Linked DNA regions of Homo sapiens: regions 1, 2, 3, 4, 5 and 6 are each linked to region 7. The links come from fine-mapping of genetic effects on gene expression. A gene starts in region 7. Each other region holds a variant in brackets. All regions are shown on one strand. Distances are from middle to middle.

The links.
Region 1: its variant is fine-mapped to the expression of MILR1 in whole blood (INTERVAL, PIP 0.90).
Region 2: its variant is fine-mapped to the expression of MILR1 in whole blood (INTERVAL, PIP above 0.99).
Region 3: its variant is fine-mapped to the expression of MILR1 in whole blood (INTERVAL, PIP above 0.99).
Region 4: its variant is fine-mapped to the expression of MILR1 in whole blood (INTERVAL, PIP above 0.99). The same link has a PIP of 0.9 or more in subcutaneous fat.
Region 5: its variant is fine-mapped to the expression of MILR1 in esophagus muscle (GTEx, PIP above 0.99).
Region 6: its variant is fine-mapped to the expression of MILR1 in whole blood (INTERVAL, PIP 0.97).

What each region holds. Positions count from the first base shown.
Region 1 is chr17:64,358,592-64,362,669 of GRCh38, reverse strand. PECAM1 (platelet and endothelial cell adhesion molecule 1) reads left to right here. Exons shown (of 16, transcript NM_000442.5): 7 at 2,255-2,530. Among named protein-coding and RNA genes, the nearest start is that of PECAM1, 30 kb to the left of the region's middle. The variant CACAT/T (reference allele first, on the strand shown) is at 1,852.
Region 2 is chr17:64,470,274-64,474,351 of GRCh38, reverse strand. It overlaps a transcript of MILR1 not described here. Among named protein-coding and RNA genes, the nearest start is that of MILR1, 23 kb to the right of the region's middle. RefSeq lists an enhancer at 662-1,162. The variant C/T (reference allele first, on the strand shown) is at 1,616.
Region 3 is chr17:64,546,633-64,550,709 of GRCh38, reverse strand. SMURF2 (SMAD specific E3 ubiquitin protein ligase 2) reads left to right here. Exons shown (of 19, transcript NM_022739.4): 17 at 2,909-3,110. Among named protein-coding and RNA genes, the nearest start is that of CEP95, 42 kb to the right of the region's middle. The variant G/A (reference allele first, on the strand shown) is at 1,892.
Region 4 is chr17:64,571,390-64,575,467 of GRCh38, reverse strand. SMURF2 (SMAD specific E3 ubiquitin protein ligase 2) reads left to right here. Exons shown (of 19, transcript NM_022739.4): 10 at 3,512-3,670. Among named protein-coding and RNA genes, the nearest start is that of CEP95, 66 kb to the right of the region's middle. The variant T/G (reference allele first, on the strand shown) is at 1,847.
Region 5 is chr17:64,417,093-64,421,170 of GRCh38, reverse strand. No RefSeq gene overlaps it. Among named protein-coding and RNA genes, the nearest start is that of PECAM1, 28 kb to the right of the region's middle. The variant C/T (reference allele first, on the strand shown) is at 2,133.
Region 6 is chr17:65,055,197-65,059,196 of GRCh38, reverse strand. It overlaps GNA13 (G protein subunit alpha 13), which reads left to right and starts at 2,457. Exons shown (of 4, transcript NM_006572.6): 1 at 2,457-2,886. The coding sequence starts at 2,604. RefSeq lists silencers at 2,170-2,679, 2,960-3,219. The variant C/GCCCTCC (reference allele first, on the strand shown) is at 2,398.
Region 7 is chr17:64,446,798-64,450,875 of GRCh38, reverse strand. It overlaps MILR1 (mast cell immunoglobulin like receptor 1), which reads right to left and starts at 1,761. Exons shown (of 10, transcript NM_001085423.2): 1 at 1,653-1,761; 2 at 1,521-1,562. The coding sequence starts at 1,707. RefSeq lists a silencer at 1,849-1,898.

The sequences.
Region 1 (4,078 bases), 88 kb after region 7:
TTATTTATTTATTTTTTTGAGATGCAGTCTCGCTCTGTCACCCAGGCTGGAGTGCAGTGGCACAATCTGGGCTCACTGCAAGCTCCGCCTCCTGGGTTCACGCCATTCTCCTGCCTCAGCCTCCCAAGTAGCTGGGACTACAGGCACCCGCAACCACGCCCGGATAATATTTTTTTGTATTTTTAGTAGAGATGGGGTTTCACCGTGTTAGCCAGGATGGTCTCCATCTCCTGACCTCGTGATCTGCCTGCCTCAGCCTCCCAAAGTCCTGGGATTACAGGCCTGAGCCACCACACCCGGCCAAGAATATCAAAATTCCATTTTTTAAATCTGTATCCTGGCTAACCCAAAAGGGTAAGACTTCCAGTGGACAGAATGTAGGTATTTGACCACCAGGAGCTGGGCTTCTCAGGCCTGAATGTGCATGCAAGACCTGGTTAAAATACAGGTTATGATTCAGTATTTTAGGCCCAGATGGGGCCAGGTTCTGCATCTCTAACTAGCATTTTGGTGATGTGGATGCTGTTGGTCTCTGGACCACACTTTGGGTGGCGAGATTCTGGTTGATTATAGAACTCCAGTCAAGTTGTCACTGTCACTATATTATTCAGTCACGATCCTTTCATTTAACCTGTGGCTGTGTTTTATCCAGCTAAGATTTTATTATAGCTTCAACTGAACCAGGATTTTAGCCTATTTTTAATGCTCTAACCACCTAACTCAAAAGGCAGGAATGCAAGAGACAAATGTGTGTTATAACGTTTTATTTTATTTTTTGTTCTTGGGAGGAGGAAATCTCATTGTATAAGGTTTAAATAAACTAATGCCTAAATAATGACCTAATATAATTCTTATCTGTTAAGAGGCTGAAGCACTAAGAAGACTTTTTTTATCTTTTTTTTTTTTTTTTTTTTTTGAGATGGAGTTTTGCTCTTGTTACCCAGGCTGGAGTGCAATGACATGATCTCGGCTCACTGCAACCTCTGCCTCCCGGGTTCAAGCGATTCTCCTGCCTCAGCCTCCCGAGTAGCTAGGATTACAGGCATGTGCCACCTTGCCCAGCTAATTTTGTATTTTCAGTAGAGACGGGGTTTCTCTACATTGGTCAGGCTGGTCTTAAAGTCCTGACCTCAGGTGATCTGCCCACCTCGGCCTCCCAAAGTGCTGGGATTACAGGCATGAGCCACCGTGACTGGCTGAGAATAATTTAAAAACATATATATTGGCTGGACCTGGTGGCTCACACCTGTAATCCCAACAATTTGGCAGGCCAAGGTGGGTGGATCACCTGAGGTCAGGAGTTTGAGGCCAGCCTGGCCAACATGGTGAAACCCCCTCTCTACTAAAAATACAAAAGTTAGCCGGGTGTGGTGGCACATGCCTGTAATCCCAGCTACTCGGGAGGCTGAGGCAGGAGAATCCCTTGGACCCAGGAGGTGGAGGTTGTGGTCAGCTGAGATTGCGCCATTGCACTCCAGCCTGGGTGACAGAGCAAGACTCGGTCTCAGAACACACACACACACACACACACACACACACATATATGCTCAGCCAGGTGTGGTGGCTCATACTTATAATCCCAGCACTTTGGGCAGCTGATGTGGGAGGATCACTTGAGTCCAGGAGTTCAAGACCAGCCTGAGCACATAGTGAGACCCTGTCTCTACAAAAAATAAAGAATTAGCCAGGTGTGGTGTGCACCTATAGTCCCAGCTACTCGGGAGGCTGAGGTAGGAGGATTGCTTGATTCTGGGAGGTTGTAGTGAGCTGTCATCGCACCAGTGCACTCCAGCCTGGGTAATAGAGTGAGACCCTGTCTCAAATACACACACACACACACACACACACACA[CACAT/T]TTTGTTGGCTACTTGTTGTACTTTTTCTATGTTTTCTGTGTCTTTGCTCAACACAAGAAAAGTATATTATGTGTGCATGTGCGTGTGAGATATGGTAAAATATGAACATGTATTTCTGGGGATGTAATGTTTTCCTTGAATTTCTGTCATTCTCTGTTTTGCTTATTGTACTTCTCTTTCCCTTTCCCTTCTCACCACACACACACACACACACACACACACACACACACAGCCTGTCAGTCTCATAGGTGTCCTATAAAGGTAAATAAGGCAGGCAGGCATTTGAAATTACAGCAGGGATAGAAAGCAAAGCTCAGGCTTTGGAGGAGGAACCTCTTGTGCTGGATGCTTTGCTTTTACCTTCAGTGCCTTTTGGATTGTTTCTCCCTCTGTTCTAGAAATGCTCTCCCAGCCCAGGATTTCTTATGATGCCCAGTTTGAGGTCATAAAAGGACAGACCATCGAAGTCCGTTGCGAATCGATCAGTGGAACTTTGCCTATTTCTTACCAACTTTTAAAAACAAGTAAAGTTTTGGAGAATAGTACCAAGAACTCAAATGATCCTGCGGTATTCAAAGACAACCCCACTGAAGACGTCGAATACCAGTGTGTTGCAGATAATTGCCATTCCCATGCCAAAATGTTAAGTGAGGTTCTGAGGGTGAAGGTGATAGGTAAGTTGCTGTGCTGTGAGAAGAAATCATGTGGGCTTGGGGCATTCTTTCACGCCCAGGGACTGTGGGAACAATAAGAGAAGTAGGGGGCCAGGTGCGGTGGCTCATGCCTGTAATCCCAGCACTTTAGGAGGCCAAGGCCGGTGAATCATTGAGGCCAGGAGTTCAAGACCAGCCTGGCCAACATGGTGAAACCCCATCTCTACTAAAAATACAAAAATTAGCTGGGCATGGTGGCGTGCGCCTATAATCCCAGCCACTCGGGAGGCTGAGGCAGGAGAATTGCTTGAACCCAGGAAGCAGAGGTTGCACTGAGCCAAGTTGCGCCATTGCACTCCAGCCTGAGCAACAAGAGCGAAACTCCATCTAAAAAAAAAAAAAGCGAGAGAAGTAGTGGGTGCTTATGCAAAGTCCATATACTAGATATGCACCAAAGCAGGGCCAAGGTTCAGTAAAGGAGGCTGGAAAATATTTGGGGGCTATTGATGAGGACAATGTAATCTCTTTCCAGAACCTTTCAACAAACTGCTAAAATATGATAAGCATGAAAGTGTCCTGACTGCAGGAAGCACTGAAGTTGTGCATATGGGCTCCCTTAGCACTTTCTCCTTTTCAGATACACTGTTCTGAGAATTGTAGATCAGGACTCTGCTGTTGTGACTCCTAGCCGGGCAACCCTGCCTTGTGTGAATTCTGCAGCAGTGAGAGCTACAGGCTGTGGTCTCATGGCAGTTACTAACATTTGCCTGGGATTCTCATCATACTCAAGAGAAATATACCATTGTCTTGGGGGTGGACAGTTTCCCTTAAGCCTCTATCTCATGCCTCTCAGAAGGCCTCAGGAGTGCCATTGCTTGCATGTCTTAGATATTTTGCATCCTGTTGTAAAAAGTTTAATAAGGCTTCCTCCTCTTTGTCCTTCTTGTTTAGTAACTGCCTATCTACATGGGCTGCTGGTGGATGTGAATAGGAGAGAGGGATTCCTGCTTCTATTCATGTATAGTCTAATAGTAGCCATACCTTTTCAATTAACATTAACATAGGCTGGTTGAGGTAGCTCACACCTGTAATCCTAGCGCTTTGGGAAGCTGAGGTGGGCGGATCACCTGAGGTCAGGAATTCGAGACCAGCCTGGCCAACATGGTGAAATCCTGTCTCTAATAAAAATACAAAAAATTAGCTGGGTGTGGTGGTGGGCACCTTTAATGCCAGCTACTCGGGAGGCTGAGGCACAAGAATCATTTGAACCTGGGAGGCAGAGGCTGCAGTGAGCCAATATCATTCCGCTACACTCCAGCCTGGGCAACGGAGCAAGACTCCATCTCAAAAAAAAAAAAAATTAACATTAACATAGACTAAGCACCTAATGGTGTGAGGCATACAAAAAAGAAGACATATTCTTTGTTTCAATGCTGTGGTAAGAAACACAAGCTCTCCTAATTAAATGATGGAGAAACATCTGAATCATAATACCAATAAGCATAGAAAAAATGTTAGGGGTCATGTTTGGTTGTCACGTGAACTATATCCTTACAGTGATGGTGATAG
Region 2 (4,078 bases), 23 kb before region 7:
TGTAATCCCAGCACTTTGGGAGACTGAGGTGGGTGGATCATTTGAGGTCAAGAGTTCAAGATCAGCCTGGCCAACACGGTGAAACCCCGTTTCTTCTACAAATACAAAAATTAACTGGGCATGGTGGCAGGCGCCTGTAATCCCAGCTACTTGGGAGTTTGAAGCAGGAGAATTGCTTGGACCTGGGAGGCAGAGATTGCAGTGAGCCAAGATCATGCCACTGCACTCCAGCCTGGGCAACAGGGTGAGACTCCATCTCCAAAATAATAATAATAATAACAAATGAAAAATAAATTATGAGTTCACACCAATATTTTCCACTCAAATTCAGGACTGCAGAGGGTCTGGGGTTTGTATGTCTGTTTTAATCAGTTTTATTAAGATACAATTTACATACAATAAATTTACCTCTTTTAAATGTACAAATTGATGAGTATTGACAAATGTATAACCATCTCCACAAAGGCAATGTAGAAAATTTTCATCACCCCTTAAAGTCCTTTTACACTTTTTTTTGAGACTGCCTCAGTAGTAACCACTGCTAAATTTATCAGAGAACTGCACACCTGGATTGTATTTTGACAGAACTTCCTTCCAACCCAATTGCTTTTAATAATTTTTTTATGATAAATTTTTACCCAAAATGTTATAGAATTTATTTACAAAGAAATTTCGTAAGTTGTATTTCTCCTACTGGTGTGGTATTATGCTAAGGAAACAGGTCTGGAGTCATGAAATCCTTAGGTGTCTAATTTTTCTAACCTGTAAGTTTCTGTGCTACTGCAGATCTCAGTTACTGTCTCTGGTGGTGGGTGTGTGCTGCGGAAGAGTCAGAGGTAAGGCACTAGTCCATTTCCTTCCAGGACAGTTGAGAAAGAAGGAAATGAACTCCAGTCATCACAAATCCACTGTTGATGATTCCTCTGGCCAGGTCTCCCCTTTAAATCCTTAGGGAGAAGCAACACTGAGAAAAGATAACTTCTTCTTTTTTTTTTTTTTTTGAGACGGAGCCTTCCTCTGTCGCCCAGGCTGGAGTGCAGTGGCGCGATCTGGGCTCACTGCAAGCTCCGCCTCCCGGGTTCACACAATTCTTCTGCCTCAGCCTCCCGAGTAGCTGGGACTACAGGTGCCCGCCACCTCGCCCGGCCAATGTTTTTGAATTTTTTAGTAGAGACGGGGTTTCATCGTGTTAGCCAGGATGGTCTTGATCTCCTGACCTTGTGATCCACCCGCCTCGGCCTCCCAAAGTGCTGGGATTACAGGCGTGAGCCACCACGCCCGGCCAAAAGACAACTTCTTTAGTTGTAATCCCCCATCCCTGAGAGTAGAAGAGGCAGAAGGCCAAAAAGTCGACCACACATGTTTGCAGCTCCTCATCCCAGCAAGATTTCTGTGCTGCCCTGGTGTTACCCTGCAGATGCCACCTTTTCCCAGTTTTCTACTGGATTATTGGTCTTTCTCTTAATGATTTGTAAAAGCTCATAATATTATGAAACTTCATACAATATCTGAGACCTGGGCTCAAAATACAGTCATGCTTCACCTAACAGTGGAGGTCACTGTTTGAACAGCATAGAGTGTACTCACACAAACCTAGATGGCATAGCCTGCTACA[C/T]GCCTAGGGTGTGTGGGATAGTCTATTCTTCCTAGGGATAAACCTGTACAGCATGCTACTGAACACTAGGCAATTGTAGCACAATGGTAAGTATTTGTGTATCTAAATGTGTCTAAACATAGAAAAGGTACAGTAAAAACACGGTATTATAGTTTTTTGGGACCCCATTTTATATTTGGTCCATGAATGACTGAAATGTTATTATGCAACACATCATGGTGTTTTCTCCCTAGTTATTCTTTTTTTTTTTTTTTTTTTTTTTTTTTTTTTTGAGATGGAGTCTTGCTCTGTCGCCCAGGCTGGAATGCAGTGGCGCGATCTTGGCTCACTGCAACCTCCACCTCCCAGGTTCAAGCAATTCTCATGCCTCAGCCTCCCCAGTAGCAGGGACTACAGGTATGTGCCACCACACCAACTAATTTTTGTATTTTTAGTAGAGACGGGGTTTCACCGTGTTGGACAGGCTGGTCTCAAACTCCCAACCTCAGGTGATCCACCTGCCCCATGGGATTACAGACGTGAGCCACTGCGCCCGGCCCCTAGTTATTCTTTGGATTTAGTTTATGATTTCTAAATGTAATTTTTAAATGTTTCATCTAATTAAATGATTTATCTAATTAAATTTAACAATCCTTTATGTTTTCTGGGTTGTGAGTCATACCTATAAAAGTCCTCCCCACTTCAAGATTATTTTTAAATCCCCTGCATATTCTTCTAGCTCTTCTGTGACTACATCTATCAGAATTAATTTTGTTGTAAAGAATGAGGTAGGAGTCCAACTTTTTTAATGTGATTCTCAAGTTTTTACAATATGTTGAATAATCCATCTTTTCCCCATTGATTTAAGATGCCATATTTATCCTATACTAAGTTCCTGTACATATTTAGAACTACATCTGGACTTTCCGTTCCATTGTTCTACTTGTTCAATCACATACAAATATGTTTGTAGAGACAGGGTTTCGCCAAGTTGCCCAGGCTAGTCTTGAACTCCTGGGCTCAAGCAATCCTTCTGCCTTGGCCTCCCAGGGTATTGGGATTATAGGCGTGAGCCACCACACCCACCCCTATTGTTGCCATTGTTCTAGTTGCTGTGATAGAGGAAATGTTGGGAGGTGGTGTATCTGCCACCTCTGTGTCCTGTGTCATATCCCTGGGCCTTCCCTCTGACCCAGCAGCATCTGAGGGTCTACTCACTTTGCACTGATAGTGTCTTGCTTCAATTGCACAATACACATGTTCACTTTCTGTCCTGGGGTGTTTGCAGTGCCTGGGGTGAGACACTGAGGTAAGCCTGCTTGGAATACCCACATGCTAGTCTAGAAGTGGGGGAGGTGTCGCTTTCTGGGGTGATCCTCAACCAGTGAGCGTTGGACACCAGTGGATAAATGCCTCTCACTATCAATCCTCAAGTGGACAATACTGAGAAGAGGCTCTTGGGCTCTTCAGAAGATTCCAGTGGGCTCATGTCCAGCTGCCCACCACAGTGCTCAACTCAGCAAAACACCCTGGTACTGGTTTTTCCCATGGCGCATTGGGCCTGCTTCCTAGGGCCACCTCCTACATAAATGATGTGCATAGAAGGCCTTATTTCAGGCTCTGCTTTCAGGTCTGGTCCAGGATAAAACAAGCGACCAGAAGTCCCTAGAAAGCAGCCTCAGGGAACAAAATTACCCCCTAGGGATGGATGGCAACAAGGACTCCCTTGCTGGTGATAGGTAGGCAGTGAGAACCCTTAGAACGCCACAGCTCCACAATTCCTAAGACCTTCCCCTGCCATGTGGAATGAGGTTTAGAAAGAAATGAGGCACTAGTGGACGCCAGCATTCCAGCACTTGAAAGGTTTGGGGCAATGCTAATTATGTGGATTGTGAAGTTAATTGGCTTCTCTTAGCTGCCTTAGAAGATTTGCAAGGAGAAAATGAGAGGCTACGGTTCAGGGCAAGCTGTGAAACCCTGATGACAGGGTTTAAGCCACTCTCATTTATCACAGCCAGCTGGAAGGCTGTGCTGAAAGCCAATTCCAGGATCTGATCGAAAGGGTGGGCCAACCATGGAGGAGATGGAGTGAGCACATCTAGCAGTTCTGCTCTGCTAACTTCTGACACTGACAGGGACGGGGTAGGCCTTGGGATGTGGACATTTGAGAATAAGAAACTCCCAATGCCCGCGAGCGCTCTTGAGAAGGAGAACAGCCCCTCTTATTAGAAGACCTCACATGAGGCAGGCGCTTCACAATATTTTTTAAATTATTGTGGTAAGTTATACATAACATAAAATTTTTTACCATTTTAACCAATTTTAGGTGTGTAATTCAATGGTATTAAAAACATTCATTCATATTGCCGGGCGCAATAGCTCATGCCTGTAATCCCAGCACTTTGGGAGGCCAAGGCAGGCCAATCATTTGAGGTCAGGAGTTTGAGACCAGCCTGGCCAACATGGTGAAACCTCATCTTTACT
Region 3 (4,077 bases), 100 kb before region 7:
CTCCTGGATTCAAGTGATTCTCCTGCCTCAGCCTCCCAAGTAGCTGGGACTACAGGCACCTGCCACCACGTCCAGCTAATTTTTGTATTTTTAGTAGAAACGGGGTTTCACCATGTTGGCCAGGCTGGCCTGGGACTCCTGACCTCAAATAATCCACCCACCTCGGCCTTCCACAGTGCTGGGATTACAGGTGTGAGCCACCGCACCTGGCCTCTAAATGTCTTTAGATTAACGGCCATACTAAACAGTGAATAGTTTTTTGTTTCCTTTTAAAGCTGGCCCTTAAACACCCCAGGTTTTGTAATTAAGACCTTAAACAAATGCATCTGAATTTCCTACTGAACAACTAAAAAACACGAGGTTTAATTCTATTAAAGGTCCCAAATTTATTTAGTAGTTAGGGATAACACAAATATTTGAAGTCTACTAATAATTTGAAACATGATTTTATTCAATGCCTTCAATGTCCTTTCTAAATAAATCTGTTAATAGACCTGTTAGCAAACAAATCTAAAAAGGTTGGTTTTACTTAATACTCTCCCCATTCCTTTTGTGATTGAATTGTTCATAGTGAAATAGCCAGAAGGAAGTAGTTAGAAGGAGAACATAGCAGGAATGCCGATAAGGTTGAAATATAATGCATTTTCATCTCTTTATACAATAAACGAGGATTTGGCCTTCTAACTGCCATTCCTCTGAAGAAAAGAATTTAGGAGGTGTCTTTTATGTCATTAAATACACCCATAATCCTTTTCGGATAACCTCCTCCCTGTTCAGTGTGGTGTTAATTCAGTGAACCCTGTAGAAGCTTTGTTGGAGATTTTATTTCAGAACCCCATAGAAGCCTTACTGGAGACTTTATTTGGTAGGGTTAGGATTTTTAATATAGTTTCTACTGCTAATGGGTCATGAAACTTTGTTTTTCTTCTCTTTTTTCTTTTTTTTATTTGTGGAGACAGAATCTCACTCTGTCACCCAGGCTGGAGTACAGTGGCACAATCTCCACTTACCGCAACCTCTGCCTCCCAGGTTTTCAAGCGATTCTCGTGCCTCAGCCTCCTGAGTAACTGGGACTTCAGGTGTGCACCACCATGCCTGGCTAATTTTTGTATTTTTAGTAGAGATGGGGTTTCACCATGTTGCCCAGGCCGGTCTTGAACTTTTTAGCTCAGGCAATCCACCTGCCTCTGCTTCCCAAATTGTTAGGATTACAGGCGTGAGCCACTGCACCAGGCCTGAATCATTAAACTTTTTATTTTTATTTTTTGAGATAGAGTCTCACTCTGTTGCCTAGGCTGGAGTGCAGTACCATGATCCTAGCTCACTGTTAACTCTTATGCTGAAGTGATCCTCCTACCTCAGTCTCCCCAGTAACTGGTACTACAGGTGTGCACCACCACGCCTGGCTAACATTATTTTGGCTTTTTTTTTTTTTTTTTTTTTTTTTGGAGACACAGTCTCACTTGTCCCCCAGGCTGATGGGATCTCAGCTCCCTACAACCTCTACTTCCTGGGTTCAAGCGATTCTCATGCCTTACCTGGGATTACAGGTGCCCGCCACCACGCCCGGCTACCTTTTTGTATTTTTAGTAGATACAGGGTTTCGCCATGTTGGCCAGGCTGGTCTTGAACTCCTGACCTCAAGTGATCTGCATGCCTCGTCCTCCCAAAGTGCTAGGATTACAGGCGTGAGCTACCACACCCTACCAATTTTTAAAGACAATATGTATAACATTTATTTTAGCATTGTATATATTAATCCTGGGTGTAATTCTATAAAATACAGGATTTGCAAGTTATGTTTTATAGTATACATGGAATTCACTGCTATAAACAAACATGTTAGATTAGTATGGTGAGTTAGTCTTGAACCCTAGGGAGACATATTAAT[G/A]ATAGTATAAAATGATTTGGATATAGTTCATCTGTGTGACCCTCCATCAGGATGTGTTTAGCAGAGGTCTGTATCAATGTGCTCATGTATTTTGTGCTTTAATATCAATTTAATATTATTAAGCAAATGTAGGCCAGGTGTAGTGGCTCACACCTATAATCCTAGCACTTTGGGAGGCTGAGGCAGGCGGATCACTTGAGGCCAGGAGTTGGAGACCAGCCTGGCCAACATGGCGGAATCTCATCTCTACTAAAAATACAAAAATTAGCTGGGCATTGTGGTGCATGCCTGTAATCCCAGCTACTTGGGAGGCTAAGGCAGGAGAATCACTTGAACCCGGGAGGCAGAGGTTGCAGTGAGCCTAGATCATGCCACTGCACTCCAGCCTAGGAGACAGAGCAAAATTCTGTCTTAAAAAAAAAAAATTATTAAGCAAATTGTATGACTCACTTATTCAACACCCATTTCTGAAGTTTCTGTGCATTATCGGTTGCTTCCCCAGGATGTAGTGAAATGGATGTTACTACCATATTACAGCAGAGGAATTGATTGAATTGCCCTCAATCAACAAAGCTAATAGGTATTGAAACTAGTAGATGATGCAGGTCCAAAGAAGGCACATATCTGTATTTACTCTTTGGGTCTCAATTTCTGTCCATTTTTTTTAAAGCTTTATAATTTTATTATGAACTTATGAAACATTCTCAATTGTTTACCTGGTCAAGTCTATCACAGCTGTGGTTCTCAGACCCTGGAGAGGGAGTTTGCAGTGAGTAGATATCTCTGGAGCTTTTTAAAATATAGATCCCAACTGTCACCCCAGGTGCACAGAATTAACATCTCTGAGCCTAGGACCTGGAATGTCAATTTGAAAAGCTTTTCAGATGATTCTGATGTGCATCTTTAATTAGGAACCACCAAATGACAGCCAGCAGTACAAACCTAAAGTTCTCTTTTGAGGAATTTTTGGTCTGGCTGTGGTTTCCACAGGTTCATTACTGTGTACTATTTTCACAGCTCATTATTTGTGGACTTGGAAAGATAGATGTTAATGACTGGAAGGTAAACACCCGGTTAAAACACTGTACACCAGACAGCAACATTGTCAAATGGTTCTGGAAAGCTGTGGAGTTTTTTGATGAAGAGCGACGAGCAAGATTGCTTCAGTTTGTGACAGGATCCTCTCGAGTGCCTCTGCAGGGCTTCAAAGCATTGCAAGGTAACAGCCTGAGGTGCAGGCAAGCTGGGCAGCGGGTGGGGGCGGGGCTGTCAGCGTGGGGTCTGTGGAGATATTTTGTAAACCATGTGCTTAGAGATTCTCTTTTTCACTTCTTATCTGTGACTCTCACATTGTGATACCTTCTTCTCCCTCCTTTCTTTTGTTCCCTTCCCAAGAGCCTTTTCTGCGGGCTTCTCTGATTGTAGTGAGTGCCGCATGCTAGAGACCGTACGTGGTGATGCTCTGCCTTTGTTTTCTGGTCACCTTACTTTTAATTCTGTTGCACATTCCTGTAGGGAAGTCGTTCACTTCCATGTTCACATCTTGACCTGGTGAAACGTTTACCTGCCTGGGATGCCTCTCCCCTCTACTTTTCGTTCTTTCTCTTATTAGACAGAAGCAGCATGGGTCATGGAAACCATCTGTTCGGTCAGAGCATTTTAATTACTGCATGGCATCAGACCATTTGTTTACAACCATATTCCTTTTTTAAGAATGGTTTTCTGTGGAATAAGCTGGTTAATTTTGGGAGGAGCTGGTAATATTGCTAATGATTGTGGTGCTTCACTGGGTGGCAGTTGCTTCCTTTACCTCTTAAGCACTTCATTTTCAAAGCTGCTGGTGATGAATAAGGACACACAAAGCGACACTGGTACATAATTCGACAGTGCTGCCCACAGCGCATGCGCTGAAATCCCTGGGGGGAGAGCGTGCTTTCAGCTGTGCTGCCCTTCTCTGTAAGGAGAGCTCCTCATCCTCACACTTCCCAGATGCATAAAGTGAAGTTGTATTTCTGCTACATGTATTTATATGGGGTGCCTGTGCGAACTGAAATGGATTCTATAGACGGCTCTTTTGCTGTCAGCCCAGTTTGAGTCATGAAATCTAAATTTGCATCAGGTCGTCATCTTTTTGAATGTGTGCCTATGTATTTTACCTTGGATTTGCCTGATTACTTTTCTTCTCA
Region 4 (4,078 bases), 120 kb before region 7:
TTAAAAAGTAGTGGGGGCCGGGCTCGGTGGCTCACACCTGTAATCCCAGCACTTTGGGAGGCTGAGGCAGGAGGATCACTTGAAGTCAGGAATTTGAGACCAGCCTGGCCAACATGGTGAAAACCCGTCTCTACTAAAAATACAAAATTAGCCAGGCATGGTGGCATGTGCCTGTAATCCCAGCTACTCAGGAGGCTGAAGAAGAAGAATTGCTTGAACCTGGGAGGTGGAGGTTGTGGTGAGCCGAGATCGCACCGTGGCACTCCAGCCTCGGCAACAGAGCAAGACCCCATCTCTAAAAAAATAAATAGATAAAAAGTAGTGGGGAGGAAATTTTACTTTTTTTTTTTTAAGCTTACTAAAAAAAGAAAAAAAAAATCCAAGGGCCTAACTTTTCAAAATCAGTTTTATTATATAAATTGTAAAAAGCTTTTTGGATTCTGTTTATCTAGTTGAAGGTCAATAATAAGCTTTTCTTTAAATTAATTAGAAATTACTTGTAGGAAATGTATAGAATAACAATGATCATTTTTTTTAACTAAATGATTTACAATAGTGAGAAAGTTGACCTTGAGTTACATGTTGAAAGAATAGTATGTAAGCTGGCAACAGAAATTGAAATTGAGACAGATTTCAGCACCACTGTTGGTAACAGGCTCTTATTCCAGAGGAAACATGTCAGTTTTTTATTAGTGAGTAAAGGATTTCTGCGAAGCTTTAAGAATATCTCATGTTGAGTATTGACATGTATTTTGAATGATGATTTTATGAAATAACACTTGGGATTATTTTTCTTATTCTGTATCCCCCAAATTACCTTAAAAACTTACATCTTTTGTTTTGGAGGATCCTTTAGCAAATATGCCTTTTGTATGGAAGATCTTTTATGAAAGTATACTATAAATATTTAGTTTCTATTACAATATCACTATTCGAAGATATTTATAAAATTGCAAAGTCAGACTCTTTAAAACAAACTTTATTTAAAGATATCCAGGATACCTAGATTTATCCAAGAAATCTCATTTCATCATGTTTTGCATTTCTCTTTAAAACAATGGTTAATGCCTTGTTATTTGTTATATTGCATACTGAGTGACTGTAGTCTTGAAATACAGATCTGTGTTACTTTGTATGACTGTATAACATTCCATTTTTCTTTAACCAGCTCCCAGTGAGACATAAAGATTATTTCTAGTGTTTTGCTCTTTTAATCAGTGCTTTAGCACTCTCCCGTGTATGACTGTAGATTTATAAAATTCTAAATAAAATGACATGAAATGAAATTCTACATTTTATCAGTAGAATTGTTCATTTTTTATTTTAATTTTTTTTTTAACTTTTAGGTTCAGGGGTACATGTGCAGGTTTGTTATAGGTAAACTTGTGTCATGAGGGTTTGTTGTACAGATGATTCTGTCACCCAGATACTAAGCCTAGTACCCATTCGTTATTTTTGCTGATCCTCTCCCTTCTTCCACCTTCCACCCTCTGATAGGCCATAGTACCTGTTGTTCCTCTCCATGTGTCCATGTGTTCCCATCATTTAGCTCCTACTTATAAGTGAGAACATGCAATATTTGGTTTTCTGTTCCTGCTTTAGTTTGCTAAGGATAATGTCCTCCAGCTCCTGTTTTTCATTTCTAAACCATTAAAAATCTATTTGGGGCCGGTGCAGTGGCTCATGCCTATAATCCCAGCACTTTGGGAGGCTGAATTTGGGAGGCTGAACTCCCTGAGTTCTCAGCTTGGGGAGGAAGCTTCAGGTTTCCTATCCCAGTCTTGCTGCTGGCCTGCCCTTCTGCCTACCTGCCACTCAGGTACCATCTTTACTCAGTCCCCCGAAC[T/G]CCCTTTTTTTTAAAATTTGAGGAGAATTCTTGGAACTTTCCCTTGCCTCTTTTGAGACTAGCAGTGTTTCAAATGGTGTTTTTTCCTACACTTTAGCTGTTCTGTAGCAGGAGTCTCTTGGAACACCTATAGCAGAAGTCAGAATGATTGCTTTGGCAAATATAGGTCCCTGTGTGCCCATCATTGGTTTCACTGTGACTAAGGAGAAGTCATCTCAGGAAAAACATTTTTCTAGTATAACTTTTAAAATGTGGTTTTGATGAAATTTGTGATTACTTATAATTATCTGTTACAATTTAAATTTACATAAACATGCTGCTTTTATCTTCTCCTCCTCCTCCTCCCCCTCCTCCTCCTCCTCCTCCTCCCCTCCTCCTCCTCCTCCCCTCCTCCTCCTCCCCTCCTCCTCCCCTCCTCCTCCCCCTCCTCCTCCTCCTCCTCCCCCTCCTCCTCCTCCCCCTCCTCCTCCTCCTCCTCCTCCTCCTCCTCCTCCTCTTTTTTTTAATAAAAAGAGGACCACAAAAACAGTTTTACTATCTAGATGCTTGAGTTTGCTTGGTCACTTTCAGAGTATGTCGTTTCTTTGGTATTTACACATGGCTCTGGTAACCTAAAGTATTCATTTAAGGCAGGAAATGACCTGATCATATCATACATTGTTACACGCAGTCTCAATTATGTCACCAAGGGCAGTGACTTTTCTCTTCTGGTGGATGACAACAGCAATTTCCACACTTTGGAAGCTTCACTGAAATATTTTTTTCTAACAGTGTAGAGGATAAGAATTTGCAGTTCTATTGCCAGTTTATTACAGAGGCTACAACTCTGGAACAGCCAAATGGAAGCAATGCTTAGGACACAGTATGGGGGGAGGGCAAGGAGCTACCATGCCCTCTCTGGGCAGGCCACCGTCCAGTACCTCAGTGTGTTCACCAACCTGGAAGCTCCTTAACTCATTCTTTAAGGCCCTATTAATCCTTCTCTATATATACTAGTATTTTAAGAATGTATAATATAATAGCAATAGTCTTTGGTCCATTAAAAATCTTAGCTTTTCTTATTGCAGTGGTAACCCTTAGAGCACTCTTGGTAATGTATCTTAAACAGGTTCTTCATTGACTAACTTTACAGATTTTAGAATTGCAGTTTATTCTTTAAAAATATGCTGTGATTATTTTCAGGATCATAATTTCAGTAACATTTCCAGTTTTGCTTTGTTGGCGAGCTTAAAATTATGGAATGGACATTTTATGCAAATTTTATGGTATAGTAAAGAAATGAAGGGACATTTTAGAAAGCATTTAATTCTTTATGTCACTGACACTTGTAAAATTACTTCCTGTCAAACACGTGTTGAAATACAGTTTATGTTGGCAAATATTGGGATTGATTTTATATTAATTTAAATCTGTATTACATTAAAGCCTAGGAAATTACTAAAAAATGTAGGCTATGTGATAAGTTTTTCTGAGCCATTTATGGATTGGGCTTTGAAGATGAAAGTTTGTTAAACCATTGGGAATTAAAGATTCCAGCTGAACATCTCAAGTTTCTGAAACAATACATTTTCTCACACTTTGTGGAATTGTTCTGTGTCATTTACACTTGCTTGGTTCAGCAGGGCGAGCAATGAGGTATTTTTTATTTTATATTTGTTTTTGCAGGGATCTTAGCAACATCAATTGTGAAGAGCTTGGTCCATTGCCTCCTGGATGGGAGATCCGTAATACGGCAACAGGCAGAGTTTATTTCGTTGACCATAACAACAGAACAACACAATTTACAGATCCTCGGCTGTCTGCTAACTTGCATTTAGTTTTAAAGTAAGTTTTTGAAACAATACATGTTAAAATGGGAGTTAAACATGATGAAACGCATAGATGCTTTTAATAATAAATGTGAGTCTCGATACAGTGGCTCACGCCTTTAATCCCAGTGCTTTGGGAGGCCGTGGCAGCAGGATCACTTGAGGCCAGGGGTTTGAGACTAGCCTGGTCAATATAGTGAGACCTCATCTCTACAAAAAAAAAGTTGTTTAAATTAAAAAATTAGCTGGGTGTGGTGGTGTATGCCTGCAGTCCTAGCTACTTGGGAAACTGAGGCAGGAGAATCGCCTGAGCCCAGGAGTTTGAGGCTGCAGTGGACTATGATCACACCACCCCAACTCCAGCCTGGGTGACAGATGGAGACCCTGTCTCTTAAAAAATGAAAGAACATCTACTTTCATCAGT
Region 5 (4,078 bases), 30 kb after region 7:
TAGGCCCTTAGCTGCCAGCAGAAGTGACCTATCCTAAGAGATGATTTGTCAAGATTTTGTTAGTGGAGAGAAGACGATTCCAGAAAATCTGGGTGTTTACCACAGGCTGAGCACAAGGAAGGAAGGAAGGCTTTGGGTTTCCTTGTAGGGACAGGGGACAAGTAAGGGCTCTGGTGACTCTGTCTTGCTGTCTTGTATCCGGAATGGCCTGGGCTGCCGCCTGGGAGAATGCTGCACTCCCTAGGTCCCAAAGTGATGCCAGTGGACCTCCAGACCCCCTTCAGGGAAGGGGGTGCTGAGGATTCTGGGAAGACTACATCAGCTGACCTGAGTGAACTTGTTTCTTGTTTGTTTGTTTTGCTTGTTTGCTTGTTTGTTTGAGACAGGGTCTTGCTCTGTAGCCCAGGCTGGAGTGCAGTGGTGTGATCTTGGCTCACTGTAACCTCCATCTCCCAGGCTGAGGTGATCCTCCCACCTCAGCCTCCTGAGTAGATGAGCCTACAGGTGCGCACCACCACACCTGGCTAATTTTTTGTATTTATTGTAGAGTCAAGGTGTCACTGTATTGCTCAGGCTGGTCTTGAATTCCTGGGCTCACGTGATCCTTCCACACTAGCCTCCCAAAGTGCTGGGATTACAGGAGTGAGCCACTGCGCCTGGCCTCAACTTTTTAAATTTAATTTCAAGTGACTCAAAAGAAAAACAAGCGAAAATAAAAATAAAGTGTTAAGGCATAAACAGTTAATGGGCAGTCAGTTTCCTCCCTAGAGCTTTTGAAATTACAGACACTTGACAATGACGCCATCTAGTGGAAGGTTAGCAGGTCAGACGAAACCCATCTATTTCTCCTGATTCTTGCTCTGTCAGTCCACAGCTCTGAATAAGTGAGTTTTGCTGGCCATCCCAGGAGTGGACTAGCCCCAATTGTGGGGCATCAGCACCCAGGAACAACATCCTATGAATGGTCTTTCCTGCTTCTCTGAGTTTGCTGGGCTCTCCTCTGGTCTTTCAAGTTCCAAAGAGAAGAATCTAGCACTTACTGAGTACCTCCTGGTTAAAGGTCAGTTCATTAGATGGGCCAGCTGACTCCATTCTCATAATGACCCTGTGACGTGTTCTGTTTCACACATGAAAAAACCCAGCCTGGTCAACATGGCAAGTCCTCATCTCTACAAATAATTTAAAAACTAGTCAGATATGGTGGGGCATGCCTGTGGTCCCAGCTACTGGGGAGGCTGAGGCAGGAGGAGTGCTTGAGCCCCGGAGCTCAAGGCTGTAGTGAGGCGTGGTCACACCACTGCACTGCAGCCTGGGCAACAGAACAAGACCCTGTCAAAAATAAATAAATAAATAAAAAGGAAACTGTAACTATAAAGGTAGTCTGTCTCTTTGTAGGAAGGCTGAAAATACTTGTTTGTACATAGTGCTAGAAGAGCCTTACTGTTGGAATTTACAGAGGGAGAAGCTGAGATATTTGCTCAAAGTTGCTTGCTACTCAATGGGAATGGTGTTTGGGCTGAAACGCAAGTTTTTTGGGGGCAAAAAACTTGCGGTGAGCACTGTAGCCTCGACCTCCATGGCTCAGGTGATCCTCCTGCCTCAGCCTCCCCAGTAGCTGGGACTAAAGGCATACTTCATCATCACACCTGGCTAATTTTTTTTATTTGTGGAGACGAGGTCTTGCCGTGTTGCCCAGGCTGGTCTCCTGAACTCAAGCGATCCTCCCTCCTTGGCCTCCCAGAGTGCTGGGATTCCAGGCATGAGACACCATGCCTGGCCTACTTTATATATTTTCAATGTACTATTTCTGCATTACATATTTTATGTACTTTTTAATATCAATAGTATGTCTGTATTAGAAATAACAATGTAAAAGTGAAATAAGCACTGGGAGCGTCCAAAGCTATTTTAAAGGTGTTGGGGGTGGCCAGGTGCAGTGGCTCTCGCCTGTAATCCCAGCACCTTGGGAAGCTGAGGCGGGTGGATCGACTTGAGGCCAGGAGTTTGAGACCAGCTTGGGCAACATGGTAAAACCCCGTCTCTACTAAAAATACAAAAAGTTAGCTAGGCATGGTGGTGCACCCCTGTAATCCCAGGTACTTGGGAGGCTGAGGCACGAGAATCACTTGAAC[C/T]CACGAGGTGGAGGTTGCTCTGTCTCAAAAAAAAAAAAAAAAAGCGTTTAGGAGAAGCTGCGGCTGATAAATTACAAATAGATGGGTTTTCGTCTGACCTGCTAATCTTCCACTAGATGGCGTCATTGTCAAGTGTCTGTAATTTCAAAAGCGCTAGGGAGGAAAGACTGCCCATTAATTGTTTATGCCTTAACACTTTATTTTTATTTTCGCTTGTTTTTCTTTTGAGTCACTTGAAATTAAAGAAAAAAAAGCTGAGGCCAGGCACAGCGGCTCACTCCTGTAATCCCAGCACTTTGGGAGGCCAGTGAGGAAGGATCGCGTGAGCCCAGGAATTCAAGACTAGCCTGAGCAATATAGTGAGACCTCGTCTCTGCAAGAAATACAAAAAATTAGCCAGGTGTGGTGGCGCACACCTGTAGTCTCATCTACTCAGGAGGCTGAGGTGGGAGGATTACCTGAGCCTGGGAGATGAAGGTTACAGTGAGTACAGTGAGCCGAGATCACACCACTGCACTCCAGCCTGGGCTACAGAGCAAGACTCTGTCTCAAACAAACAAACAAACAAAACAAACAGACAAGAAACAAGTTGAAGTTCCCTTCAGAAATACCCTCCTGCTTCAAGCCTATAGAGGGTAAACCAAATGAGGTGCTCGTTAAAAGAATTTAGTCCTTACATGAAAAATACCATCAAATGTATGTAGAGTTTCTTTTAGTCCTGCAGAAATGCATACCTGATACCTTGATTATCACAGAGAAAAATGTTTTTGGCTACTTTAAAATGTTCCATAATTCTGAGCAGGCTGGCAGTCCTACCTTTTCACCATCAAAAACCCCCCATTATTTTTATTATGTATTTATTTATTTTATGTTTTGAGGCAGGGTCTCGCTCTGTTGCCCAGGCTGGAGTGCAGTGGCACAACCATGGCTCACTACAGCCTTGAACTCCAGGGCCTCATCCTCCCAACTCAGCCTCCCTAATAGCTGGGACTACAGGCATGCACCACCAAGCCCAGCTAATTGTTTTGTTTTGTTTTGTTTTGTTGTTTGTTTGTTTTAGTGATGGAGTCTCACTATGCTGCCCAGGCCAGTCTCAAACTCCTGGACTCATGTGATCCTCCTGCCTCTGCCTCCCAAAGTGTTGTGATTATAGGCATGAGCCAACACTCCTGGCCCCTTCATTATTTGTATTTTATAAATCTCATTATTGGGAATATTTTATCCAAAATAGCATTAACTAAGTAGTCAATGATTTTTCTATTTGTATTTATATGTATATTTGATTAATTAAAGTCCCCAGTAGATAAGGGACAACCTTGCTAAATTGATAAAACTCCATCCCTGCCGGGCGCAGTGACTAATTCCTGTAATCCCAGCACTTTGGGAGGCCAAGGCGGGTGGATCACTTGAGGTCAGGAGTTCGAGACCATCCTGGCCAACATGGTAAAACCCCATCTCTACTAAAAATACAAAAGTAAGCTGGGCATGGTGGCAGGTGCCTGTAATCCCAGCTACTCAGCAGGCTGAGGAAGAAAATTGCTTGAACCCAGGAGGTGGAGGTTGCAGTGAGCTGAGATCACACCACTGCACTCCAGCCTGGGTGACAGAGCAAGACTCTGTCTGTCTCAAAAAAAAAAGAGAGAGAGAGAGAGAATGCATCTCCTTCCTTCTTGAAATGCCCAGATTGCCGTGGTCATATCATTGATGAGCTAAGTAATGGGATTCTTGGGCTTATAAGTTTACAGTGGCTGAAGCCTCCACTGTATGGGGCAGTTTTTGTGAAATCCTCTAGTACCGGAATGGCACCATGGAAGTGGAAGGAATAGAGTGGAATGTCATTGAGTCTTCCTCATTCAAAAAAAAGAGCCCCTTTGCAGATATAGCTGTCCATATCCATGGGTTCCAGATTCATGGATTCAACCAACCGTGGATAGAAAATATTCAGA
Region 6 (4,000 bases), 610 kb before region 7:
ATTCTCCTGCCTCAGCCTCCCGAGTAGCTGGGACTACAAGCGCCCACCACCACTCCCCACTAATTTTTGTATTTTTAGTAGAGATGAAGTTTCGCCATGTTGGCCAGGCTGGTCTCGAACTCCTGGGCTCAAGTCATCTGCCTGCATCAGCCTCCCAAAGTGCTGGGATTACAGGCATGAGCTACTGTGCCCGGCCTTCTTTTTCTTTCTTTCTTCCTTCCTCCTTCCTCCTTCTTCTTCTTCTTCCTTCATTTGACTTTCAGGTCAAAGAGGTCTCTTTTTAAAAACTACACTGACTAGAACAGCCAGACTTGATGTGAGCCAAGTTTGTTCCAAGGCAAGCTTACACGCAGGGCTTTAAACAGCTTTCTCTGCTGCTCTGCATGTCACGACATGAACTGGCTGGGCAGGAATACCTTCCTGCCTCCTAGGCATTCTTGGTTTTCCATTATATTACACACACTTCTGAAAAAAGATGTTAACTACCTAACTTACAAGTTTCTCTCCTCTTTGTTGGAGTTCAGATTAGCACCTGGGGTCAATGCAGAAACAGTGCTCGGGGACAGGTTCTATGCCCCAATCCTGGGAGAGGCGAGTCCTTGCATGGTTAGAGAACAGGGCCTCCCAAACACTAGATGAGATGATGGAAAAATTCTCCATCCAGGGCAGGCTTTTACCATATATTTTGCCTGACAGCACTGCTCAGTGATTCTGACTCTTATCAATCCACAGATATTGGAGGTGAGCCTACTCTACTTGTATATTGTAGGTTGTCCACCCTCTGGGCTTGCCAGAGCCACAGGAGATAATCCTACTACAGGCATTGTTTACTGCAGCCAATCTACTGAGTCGAGGCTTCTCGGTCATTAACCCAACCCCAGGGAGTAACTGATTAGTACCGATTTTAAAATTTAAACCTGTTCGGGAGTTTCTTGGAATGCTGACCTCTTACCTCCGCTCCCTTATACATACGAAGTTTCTGAGCCACAGGAGCCCAAAGCTACGTTGCATTGCCCAAAACAGGGACAGACCAAAGTGGCTTTTTCCACTTGAAACTAAATACTAAGAATGAAGAGGTCGGCTCTCGGGGGTCCCGGTTAAGCAGTTTCTCTGCCAACCCACAGCTGTCACTTGTGGCTTGTCTCCTGGCCTCCTTTCAGGTGTCCTGGCCTGAATCTGCTGTTAGGACAGAAAAAAAGTCCCTGGACGGGTCATATCCTCTGTAATCTGGCAGGAAAGCTAAAATTTGCGTGCTCCCATTCCTCGTTGTGTTTGTGTATCTGCTTCCTTGTTGGGAAGAGCCTACATCACAGTGTCCGGTGTAGGGGATTTTCACCATGACCTCACCCTCCTGCTGCCACTCGCTAATTCCGGCGCGGCCAAGCGTCCCTGAAGTCACATCACAGCCCAGGTGGAATGCACGAGTGAGCCATTAAATGCCCCTGGTAGCACGTCTCAAGTGAACATCAACTCCAGTTCTTTCCCCTCACAGAGAGCCCTGGTAGGGGTCTGAAAATGCCAGAAAGAGCTGGAAGTGGGGGTGGACGACGTCTGGTTACCGTTCTGGGATTCGGAGACTAGAAGGTCAAGGGAGTCACTTTAAGAAAACACACCAGGCCTGGGCCTGGTGGCTCTGTCTGGAATCCCCGCACTGTGGGAGGCCGAGGCTAGAGGATCGCTTGAGCTCAGGAGTTCGAGACCAGCCTGGGCAACATAGGGGGGAGCCCCTGTATCTAAAAATAAATACAAAAAATTTAGCCGGGTATGATGGCACACGCCTGTACTCCCAGCTACTCGGGAGGCTGAGGCGGAAGGATGGCTTGAACCTGGGAGGCGGAGGTTGCAGTGAGTCGAGATCGAGCCAATGCACTCCAGCCTGGGCGACAGGGTGAGACTCCGTCTCAAAAGAGAAAAAATAAAATGAAATAAAGAAAATGCACCAAAGGCCTGCCAGGCTCACGCCGGCTGTTCTGTTCGAATAACTTTCGAGTCCGTGGCCTCGAAATGGGTCGGGTGGGCGGTGACAGCGGGCAGCGGGCGCGCAACGCGGGAGAAAGGGAGGCTAAGTGGGAGCCCAAAGAACCGCGTCCGGGACCTGGTCTCCGGCCTCCCGGCCTTGGGGAAGGAGCCCTTCTGCCCACAAGTGGGCTCAGGCCATGAAAGGGAAACAGAAAGTCGGGCTCCCCAGCCTGGCCCACGTGACCGCGGTTCCTCAGCCCTCCCCGCGCGCCCGGCCGCGGCTGCGGGCGCGGGCACCCGAGCGACACATCGAGCTCGTGACTCGCCGCCCAGGGCGGGAGGCGGAGAAGCGGCCGCGGCGTGCGAGCGCGCCTCCGGGAGGCAGCGGGAGCGCGCACGCTCCGGGGCCACCGCCCCTCCGGGGCCGGGCCCGCCCTC[C/GCCCTCC]TTCCCTCCCTCCCTCCCCCGCTGTCCTGGCCCGCCCTGCCCGGCCCGCCCTGCGAGTCAGTTCGCTGGTTCCCTCCCTCCCTGGGCGCGCTCGGGCCGCCGCCGCGCTCCCCGCCCTCGAGCCTCGGTGCCGGAGCCGCCCGCCGCCGGAGGAGGAGGTGGAGGGAGCCGGAGGGGCCCGCCGAGGCGGCGGCGGCGGCGGCAAGATGGCGGACTTCCTGCCGTCGCGGTCCGTGCTGTCCGTGTGCTTCCCCGGCTGCCTGCTGACGAGTGGCGAGGCCGAGCAGCAACGCAAGTCCAAGGAGATCGACAAATGCCTGTCTCGGGAAAAGACCTATGTGAAGCGGCTGGTGAAGATCCTGCTGCTGGGCGCGGGCGAGAGCGGCAAGTCCACCTTCCTGAAGCAGATGCGGATCATCCACGGGCAGGACTTCGACCAGCGCGCGCGCGAGGAGTTCCGCCCCACCATCTACAGCAACGTGATCAAAGGTGCCGGGCCGGGAATGGGGGCCGGGGGTTAAGGGCAGGGGGGCTGGGGCGGCGGCGGGTGCGGGGCGGGGCACCGCCCTGGTCCGCTGTGTCGCTGGCGAAGGAACGGGCCCGGCGGGCGGGCTGGCGGGAAGGGGGCGCGCCCCGGCAACTGGCCCTGCCCGCCCGGGGTGCCCTCGCGCCCCAGGGCGAGAGGATGCTCGGGGTCGCCCTGCTCTCCCGCTTGTCTCCCCGGTGGGCGTCACGGCCATTCCCCCACCCCCCACCGCGTCCTGGTCTCTCCCCCTGCGAGAGGGAAGTGGGGCGAGCTGGGTGCTGCCTCGGGGTGTGGGCAGACCTCTCCTGTCCTCCCCGCTGCGGATGAGGCAGGAACACCAATAGCAGCCCTAGCCGCTTCACCCCCATCCCCTGCTCGGGCGATGTGGGCCGAACCTCGCTACCCTGGCTGGGTGACCCGAGTCACATGGGGTCGCATGCGCTCCCAACTCCCTGCTTCCTTGGCCGTCTCCTAAGCAAGCGAGTTCTGGAACCGTCGCAATAAGGGAACTTTTTGCCCGAGACTTCTTGTCAAGGGCGTAGGGTGACAGCCTCCTTTTGGGCGAGAATATGAAACTTGAGGAGTGTCAGGTTGACTGTACTGGAATCAGGAGAGAGTGGACCCATACAGTTAGCATGAAAATGTAGCATCTGTGCTTTTTCGCCCCAGTGTCACGGTCAGGTAGGATGTTTGCGTGTGATTTCTGTGCAACACGTTCCACTCTCCTTTTCGCTAAGTAACTGGGGGCTGGCAGGAAGGGAGTACCACTGCTTCTATTTAGATGAAATGTAGTAGTAAGAAGACTGGCCTAAAAGTCATGTGGATCCTGTACAGATGGAGACAATGAATGAGTGTTGAGTTAGATAATTGGCTCGGCTCTTTATTGACAGTAGTTTTAAAATTAAACTTTGTTCTTAAGTGAAAAATAAACAAGTTGTTTATTTCTGGGCATTCAAAGAAATCGAAAAGATGGTTTTTATTTTGTCATTTGAAAGATAATTAACACTCGTTTCTGCGTGTCAAGTATGTTCTATAGAAAAGGCATTTTGGCAAAATTTAGGTGCAGCGCCTGGTAAC
Region 7 (4,078 bases):
ATTGCCCCCAAAAAGCAGGGCAATAAATAAGGATGGTTAAACGAATCATGGCTGAGTCTTAAAATACCATGCAGCTGTTGAAAAAGAGGAGCTAAGGCTGGTGTGGTAGCTCATGCCTGTAACCCCAGCACTTTGGGAGGCAGAGGCAGGAGGATCACGAGGTCAAGAGTTCAAGAACAGCCTGGCCAACATGATGACACCCCGTCTCTACCAAAAAACAATACAAAAATTACCCAGGCATGGTGGCACGTGCCTGTAATCCCAGCTACTCGGGAGGCTGAGGCAGGAGGATCCCTTGAACCCAGGAGGCGGAGGTTGCAGTGAGCCGAGATTGTGCCACTGTACTCCAGCCTGGGCAACAAGAGTGAAACTCTGTCTCAAAAACAAACAAACAAAAAAAGATAACGAATATAAAGTGACTGTTGATAACGGCTGCTTCTGGATAGGAAGGGGAGAAGAATTGGAGGAGGATTGTAACAGAACTTTTACATTTTATACAGTAACAACCACCACCTTGGCTATCACTTACGGATGGTTTACCATATGCCTGGCACTGTGACGAGGAGCAGGGATTGTCTCATTTGATCTGCACACTAGCCTACCAGGTAGGTGCTTTTATTAGCCCACTTCACAGATGAAATAAATTACAGTGTCTCACGCCTGTAATCCCAGCACTTTGGGAGGCCAAGGTGGGCGGATCACGAGGTCAGGAGATCGAGACCATCCTGGCTAACGATGTGAAACCCCGTCTCTACAAAAAATACAAAACATTAGCCAGGCTTGGTGGCACACGCCTGTAGTCCCAGCTACTCGGGAGGCTGAGGCAGGAGAATCACTTGAACCTGGGAGGCAGAGGTTGCAGTGAGCCGAGATTGCACCACTGACTCCAGCCTGGGCGACAGACTGAGACTCCATCTCAAAAAAAAAAAGAAAGAAAGAAAGAAAGAAAGAAATTAAGGTCAAACTGGGTATGTCATGAGCTCAGGCTGCTGGCTAGTAACTAGTAGAACCAGAGGTTAGACCACTTCCCAATGTATATTTCTAGTGTTGCTTGAATTATTTCACAATAATTCTGTGGGTTTTTTTATTTTGTTTTATTTTTTTAAGAAACGAGGTATCACTATGTTGTTCAGGCTGGTCTCAAACTCCTGAGCTCAAGCAATCCTACCCCATTAGCCTTCCAAAGTGCTGCGATTACAGGCCGGAGGCACCACACCCAGCCTGTGTGTTGGCTTTCTAGTTAAAACACAACAACCATAAAACAACAATAACAAGGAAAGTTAGAAAACTTTCATTGTGAAAACAAATTTCATTATTTTTCTCACTGAGTCTCAGAAAAAAATGCTGCAATCCCCTCCCTAAAATCATTTTATTTTAAATGATAGATAATTGAAAAGACTGTTCTTTGGTTGTTCATAAAAGCTCAGAAACACTTTTGAATGGACGCTTATGTTGCAATCAGACTGTCTCACCACTTCAGTGAAAATGGTTTCAATAAGAAAGAAGTAAATGAAACTTACCATTTGTTTTCATTGCCTCACAATCCAATACAGCTTTTCTACCTGAAACAGAAAAGGAACACGATAAAGCTCACTTTCCACATGACACGTTGGCTTGGAGGTTCGAGCCTCAGAATGATAAGGGGGGCTTACAAGTGACAGAAGAAAATATGCTCCAGAAGAGGAGCCTGTTCAAATGGCTCCACATTCTCCCAGTTGAAGTCCAAGACGGGGTCAGAAGGCATAGTAGAACCACAGTGGTGAGTAACTCGGAGAACTTCCTCTTTTTCTTAGCCAAGTTAAGGAAATCAGAGGGTTTGGATGAGGTTTGCATAATACTGGTTTGTTCGACCAATCTGTCTTCCTCTGTGAGTTCCTGTAAGAAGAGAGATATTTGGTAGATTGCCACTCCCCCGCCCCCCCCACCCCCCCACACCCCCACATCGTCCCATGCTGGCTGGGAAAGAGAAGAGGTAAATCTGACTGTTACATTGTCTATGTAAACCCATCTGATCTCCTTGCTCTGGACTCAGTCTATGCCAAAAGGAGTTTGGTGGAAGTTTGATTTAGTCTTTGGAAGCAAACCGACTGTCTTAAGCAGATACATACAAATATTGTATCAAAAATGCCTGCTTTTTTTTTTTGAGACTGGCCTCACTCTGTCACCCAGGTTGGAGTGGAGTGCTGTGATCATAGCTCATTGCAGCCTCAAACTCCTGGGCTCAAGTGCTCGTCCCACCTCAGGCTCCTGAGTAGCTGGGACCACAGGTGTGCACCATCAGGACTGGCTAATTATTTTTATTTGTAAAGACAGGGGTCTAGTTGCCCAGGCTGGTGTTAAACTCCTGAGCTCAAGTGATCCTCCCGCCTCAGCCTCCCAAAGTGCTGGGATTACAGGTGTGAGCTACTGTGCCTGGCCAAAAATGCCTGCTTTTGTTAAACGTTGATTCCTAGACCCCACTCCAGACTTACTGGGTTTCAAGTCCAGGACGCTGATTTTTTTTTTTTTAAACAAGGGCCCTGAGCAATTCTTACGCACAGTGAAGGCTGAGAAATATCTGTACAAGGTGCTGCTGCCTCAGTGATTTCTGAATCAAGGGAGCCTTGGGGACTTGATATTACGGCAAGCCCTCCAGTGCCAGGAGATCTGAAGTAGGAGTTACCTTAGATCAGCCTTTGAAATAGAACGTGCAGGCTGGGTGCGGTGGCTCATGCCTGTAATCCTAGCACTTCGGAAGGCTGAGGCAGGCGGATCACCCGAGGTCAGGAGTTTGACACCAGCCTGGCCAACACAGCGAAATCCCATCACTAGTAAAAATACAAAAAACTTAACTGGGTGTGGTGATGCGTGCCTATAATTCCAGCTACTTGAGGGGCTGAGGCAGAAGAATCGTTTGAACCCGGGAGGTGGAGGTTGCAGTGAGCCAAGATTGCACCACTGCACTCCAGCCTGGGTGATAGAGCAAAACTCTGTCTCAAAAAAAAAAAAAAAAAGTCAGTTGAAATAGAATGTGCAGAGCCACTTCTTGATGGAGTGGAGATCACCAAAAGGATAGAAAGGTATGACTATAGGGCTAGGTGGGCAAGACAGCTGGTTGACACTTGCAAGAATTGACAGGTCCACCAAGAGAGGAAGCAAGGAGTTGAATGGCTGGGGCAGCCTTGAGCTGGGACATTCATCTCTGTACCTTAGGTCCCAAGATGTAACCAAATCCTTCCTTATTGACTCAGCGTCACCTAGCTAGCATCCTCTAGCTAGGAGGTTTGATACTGAATCTTGCTCTGTCTCCCAAGCTAGAGCACAGTGGCACCATCTTGGCTCACTGCAATCTCCACTTACCAGAATCAAACTATCTTTCCACCTCAGCCTCTCTAGTAGCTGGGACCACAGGCACAAACCACCATACACTACTAGGTTTTTAACTTTTTTATAGAGATGAAGTCTCACTATATTGCCCAGGCTGGTTTTGAACTCCTGGGCTCAAGCGATTCTCCTGCGTGTGGCCTCCAAAAGTGCTAGGATTACAAGCATGAACCACCATGCCCCACCCTTACTACAACAACTTTACAGCACTTTATAAAAGTTTGGATGGGTGAACTGTCAGATACATGTGCAAAATTCCATCAACTTTTTCTTTTCTTCACGTCTGCAATGTTTTTCATCAGCATCCTGTCACTTTTTGGCTACCACTGCTGGCCAGCTGGAAAAGAACAGACAACCATAGAATCATTCCCCGCACCCACATTTTCTTTCTCTCTCTTTTTTTTTTTTTTTTTTTGAGATGGAGTCTCGCTCTGTTGCCCAGGCTGGAGTGCAGTGGCGCTATCTCGGCTCACTGAAACCTCCACCTCCTGGGTTCAAGGGATTCTCCTGCCTCACCCTCCCAAGTAACTGGGATTACAGGTACGTGCCACCACACCTGGCTAAATTGTGTATTTTTAGTAGAGACGGGATTTCACCCCATTGGCCAGGCTGGTCTCGAACTCCTGACCTCAGGTGATCTGCCTGCCTCGGCCTCCCGAAGTTGTGGGATTACAGGCGTGAGCCACTACCCCCGGCTCCACATTTTCATATAGAC